Regions from separate parts of the Homo sapiens genome. Here region 1 is linked to region 2. The links come from fine-mapping of genetic effects on gene expression. Tissue or cell type: whole blood. Region 2 holds a variant in brackets; the other region holds the start of a gene. All regions are shown on one strand. Distances are from middle to middle.

Evidence for each region. PIP is the estimated chance that this variant, and not a neighbour inherited with it, causes the effect.
Region 1: it holds the start of MERTK, and the variant in region 2 is fine-mapped to the expression of MERTK in whole blood (INTERVAL, PIP above 0.99).

The regions. Positions count from the first base shown.
Region 1 is chr2:111,897,400-111,900,016 of GRCh38, forward strand. MERTK (MER proto-oncogene, tyrosine kinase) reads left to right here and starts at 1,208. Exons shown (of 19, transcript NM_006343.3): 1 at 1,208-1,397. The coding sequence starts at 1,337. RefSeq lists an enhancer at 347-676.
Region 2 is chr2:112,044,718-112,047,473 of GRCh38, forward strand. No RefSeq gene overlaps it. Among named protein-coding and RNA genes, the nearest start is that of TMEM87B, 9.2 kb to the right of the region's middle. The variant A/C (reference allele first, on the strand shown) is at 1,580.

The DNA.
Region 1 (2,617 bases), 150 kb before region 2:
TGCCTGTCTCCTTCCCGTAGCCAAATCTACGGGAAGTGTCCAGCCAGTGTAGGGGTCAAGGGACCGCTTGACGAGACCAACGTAAATTGAAGAGGCGTAAGGAGATGAGGCCAAAGAGGAAAGGGGACCAGGTCACGTAGAACCTCGTAGACCACTGCAGAACCTTGGCTTACGTACGCAGAGACAGCAGGAACCACTGATAGGTTTAGGGAGATTTGAGGAGAGGGACATGATTTGGCTTATGTTATGTTGTTAAAGGGACCACATTAAAATACATTCATTCTAAAAGTGTTACCTTTAAGAAACTACGTATATAAATTAAGTTACTGTTGCCATTATTAGCGTAAGTAGTTACATTTCTCTTACGACTCACTCTCTGCTACTGCCTCTTGGACCCTGCACACCTTGTGGAGGCCCATGAGAGTGACGTGCTGTGGTTCCCCCTCTCCCCACTCCTGCTCTGCACTTTGTCATTCACGTTCATCTCCCTCCTTGAGTGTCACCTCTCTCTGGCTCGTCACGGAGCCACGGCAAAGCGTCCTTTCCCAGGAACCCCTCCCCCTGGGGAGGTGAGCTCCTCGCCGCCAGGGCCGTGTCGCGCACCTCGGGCCGGGTACCCAGGCGGCGCTCGGCGGCGAGCGGAATGGATGTGGAGGAGCGCTCGGCAGGGAGCGCTGCCGCCCTGGCCTTGGCCTCTGGGAGCGGCGCGGCCAGGGTTTTCTGTGTCAGCCAAGCCCGGAATGCGGGGGCGCCTCTGGACCCTCCTCTTGGGTCTGGGGGCTGCCTCGGGCATCCTCTACTCCTCTCCCACCTTCTGTCCTTCCCCATCTCCCACCCACACGTGTGGGGCCCCGGACCCGCGCAGCGGCCAGAGCCTTCCGCTGTGGACCTCCAGTCCACCCCTCCCCTTCACTTCTCTTTCCGGCTCCCTCCGGGTCTCTCAGCCCCCTCCCCTTCCTCTCCGCCCCCTTCCCCGCCGTCTGCCCAGCGGCGGCCTTCGGCCCGCCCCTTCTCTCCAACCCCCTCCCTTTCCCCTTTACGCCCCTCCTCCCCCTCGTCCTCCCGCCCCCTCCCACCCCAACCTGCTGGGCCCGCCGGGACTCGCCCCCCTGCCCGCTCCTCTCCTCCAGCCCCGGCCGGCCTCGGCTCGGCCCCCGGCCCGCCCCTTCCAGCCCTCGGCACCTCCCGCCGGCCGCTTGGCTCCGCCACTCGGCACTCACTGCCCGGGCCGCCCGGACAGGGAGCTTCGCTGGCGCGCTTGGCCGGCGACAGGACAGGTTCGGGACGTCCATCTGTCCATCCGTCCGGAGAGAAATTACAGATCCGCAGCCCCGGGATGGGGCCGGCCCCGCTGCCGCTGCTGCTGGGCCTCTTCCTCCCCGCGCTCTGGCGTAGAGGTGAGTGCGCCCGGCTGGGGGCCAGGCGAGGGGGTGGGGGCTCCCAGGAGGAAGCAGGGGCCTCTGGGGAGGGAGCGCGTCCACAGGGGCGCGCCTGGCTGCTGGACAAGTTTGCAAACACCCTCCACCCACTGCGGTGCCAGAGGAGGGGGCGTAGGCGAACCTACCGTCCACTGACCGCGGCGCCTCAAGCGTCCCGAGGGCACCCAGCCTGGCTTGCGGGTGCGCATCGTGGTGAAGCCGGGTCGGGGTCGGCGTTGCAGGCTCCCCTCTTCACCGCAGAGGAGGAAATCGAGCTCGGCCGGGCGCGCTGCAAGTCCTGAAGTTCCGACGAGTGGAACGTAGGTAGCAGGTCTGGTCTGGGATGCGACGAGAACTTTCCACTAGAGTTGCATGGTGGGGCCCCGCTCTGGCCGGAGTCCCGGGGGCCACAGATCCGGTCTCCCGAGGGACCGGCGCGGGGCGAACGAACGGGCTGCGGGAGTCGGAGCCGCAGTCCGGGAGCCGCGATAGACTGAGGCCGAGCGACGGGCCAGGGGGGGACGGCAGTCCTGGCTGCTCCCAATGGGCCCTTACGGGCATTATTAGTATCCCTTTTTAGGGGCACCCAGAGAGTGTGGGAAAAGGGGAGCGTTCTTTTCACTCCTGTTATGGCAGAACAGAACTTACAGTGCTCGGCAGCGTTTACGTTTATCTGGATTCAGCGAAGTGTTGTTACAGGCTTTTTTTTTTTTAATTTGAGACCGAGTCTCGCCCTGTCGCCCAGGCTGGAGTGCCGCGGCGCGATCTCGGCTCACTGCAGGCTCCGCCTCCCGGGTTCAAGCGATTCTCCTGCCTCAGCCTCCCGAGTAGCTGAGACTATAGACGCGCGCTACCACGTCCGGCTAATTTTTGTATTTTTAGTAGAGACGGGGTTTCACCATGTTGGCCAGGATGGTCTCGATCTCTTGACCTCGTGATCTGCTCTCCTTGGCCTCCCAAAGTTCTGGGATTACAGTCGTGAGCCACCGCGCCCGGCTTGTTCCAGGCATTTTAATACAAGATGCTGGACTGATACGTGGAGGCAAGGAAGGCCGGTTTCATTCTGCTTGAACAGCTTATTTGGGGAGTGAGTGATGAACAGATTTCAAGTTTGATCGCTGATGCACTTCTTGAGGAGGCTGGAATAAACTTACCAGGCTTTACCCAAAAGAAAAAGAAAGGGGAAAAATGCTAAATAA
Region 2 (2,756 bases):
TAGCCACGCAGGAACAATGGTGAGCCTTTAGCCCAATTGGGAGGGGCAACGGGCACCTCGCTGGATCAGGAGCGCAGCAGACAGCCTGCTGGATCCAGAGGGATGGAAGTCAGTGGCAGGTCTGCGATGGCGCCAAATAGCAGTGGTGGATGCCGAGTGAAAGCTCAGCTTGAGCCGTAACAAACACGGACCAGAAGAGTGTGCAGTTGCAAGATTTAATAGAGTGAAAAAAGAGCTCCCATAAAATGGGAGGGGACCCAAAGGGGGTTGCCCATGTCAATGCTTTAAAGATGTCCCCACGCTGTTTTTTTTTTTTTTTTGAAACAGAGTCTAACTCTATCACTCAGGCTAGAGTGCACTGGCACTATCGTGGCTCACTGCAACCTCTGCCTCCCGAGTTCAAGTGATTCTTGTACCTCAGCCTCCCAAGTAGCTGGGATTAGAGGCATGTGTCACCACACCTGGCTAATTTTTGTAGTTTTGGTAGAGACAGAGTTTTACTGTGTTGACCAGGCTGGTCTCAAACTCCTGGCCTCAAGTGATCCCTCTGCCTTGGCCTTCCAAAGTGCTGGGATTACAGGCATAAGCCATTGTGCCTGGCCCCCTACTGTCTTCTTTGCTTACATTGTTTCTAAAAAATTGATGTCATCCTTCTCTTTATTCTTTCCCTTGTATCAAACATGTCTTTTTTTCCCCTCTAACTGCTTTTAGGAGTTTCTCTTTTCACTGATTTGTGCAATTTGCTTATGATGTGCCTTGAAGCAGTTTTCTTCATGTTTCTTTTGTTTAGCTCTAATTGAACTTCTTGGATCTATGGGTTTATTGTTTCATTAAGTTTAGAAACATTTCAACCATTCTTCCTTCAAATATTTTTCTATTTTTTCCACTGTTTTTTGGAGCCAATTACACATATATTAGGCCATTTGAATACTCACTAATAGTCTGTTAATTTTTTAAGTTTTTTCTCCAAGATTTTGGTTATTTTCTATCCTTATGTCTTCAGTTTTACTAATCTTATTAGGCCATTTGAATACTCACTAATAGTCTGTTAATTTTTTAAGTTTTTTCTCCTAGATTTTGGTTATTTTCTATCCTTATGTCTTCAGTTTCACTAATCTTATCTTCTGCAGTAGCCAATTTGCTATATTAAGCCCATTCAGTGTATTTATTTCAGGCATTGCATTTTTCATCTTTAGAAATTTGGATTTCATGTTTTTTCTTTTAATATTTCTACTTAATTTTTGAACATATAGGATACAGTTATAATTTTTAATGACTTTTTTGTTCATTCTAACATATGTGTCAGTTCTGGCCAGTTTCAACTGATTATTTTTCTCCTCTTTATGTCTCACAGTATCCTGATTCTTTGCATGCCTAGTAATCTCCAACTGATGCCAGACATTACAATTTTACTAGTTGAGTGTTACAGATTTTTGTACTCCTATAAATATTCTTGGGCTTTGTTCTAGGGCATAATTAAGTTACGTGGAAACTGTTTGGTTCATTTGGGTTTTGCTTTAAAGATTTGTTTGTTGAGGCTCAATTCATCTGGGAGGAGGTGAAAAAATAAAAAGAGACT[A/C]AAGCCCTGTTTAGTCTAAAACTAATTACTCTGTACTATTGAGGCAAGACCTTTTTGAGTATTCTACCAATGCCCTGTGAATTAGGAAGTTTTCTAGGTTAGCTGGTGAGAACAGGCTATTTTCCCAGCCTGTTGTGATACTATTTCTTCTTCTTCTTTTTTTTTTTTTTTTTTTTTTTGCTGACTCTTTCCTCTACTTCATGTAGTTTCTTCACATACAGTGGCTGATAATTTCTCTGCTGAAGATTTAAAGGGGACCTTTTGCAGATCTCAAGAACTCTCTCTGTACCACTCTCACCTCTCCATATATATTGTCCTGCAAACCACTGCTGCTTTGCTCACACTGAACTCCCAGCTTTGTCTTCTCAACTCAGGGAATCTGCCCGGCTCTGCTAGAGTTATTCCTCCCCATGCTGTGGTCTGAACATTCTCTCAAGCCAGTAAGCTGAGGCAGTCATAGGACTCAACTTTCTTTTTTTTCCTTCACTCAGGGGTAACTGTCTTTCATTGCCTGATATCCGGTGTCTTAAGAACTGTTATTTCATCTATTTGGTCTGGTTTTGTGTTGTTGTTCTAGGCAGGAGGGTAAATTTGGTACCCATTATTACATCTAGCAGAAGTCTTGAATGTACTTGTTAACAAATGTTTTATTAGGGAAAACTTCAAGCTTATATAAGTGGGCAGAATAGTTTTGTCACTGCCTATGTCTTCATCTCTAGGCTTTAAAACATGATCAAATCAGGGCCAATCTTGTTTTATCTGTGCCCCCACTCACTTCTCTCCCTCTTGCTTTTTTTTTTTTTTTTTTTTTTGAGACAGAGTCTCACTCTGTCGCCCAGGTTGGAGTGCAATGGCACAATCTTGGCTCACTGCAACCTCCACCTCCCAGGTTCAAGCAATTCTCCTGCCTAAGCCTCCTGAGTAGCTGGGATTATAAGCACGTGCCATTACACCTGGCTAATTTTTGTATTTTTAGTAGAGACGGGGTTTCCCCATGTTGGCCAGGCTGGTCTTGAACTCCTGGCCTCAAGTGATCTGCCTGCCTTGGCCTCCCAAAGTGCTGGGATAACAGGCATGAGCCACTGCGCCCAGCCTCCCTCTTGCATTTTGAAGCAAATCCCAGACATCATGTAAGCTCATCTGTGAATATTTCAGGGTGAGTTTCTGTAGGGGTCCC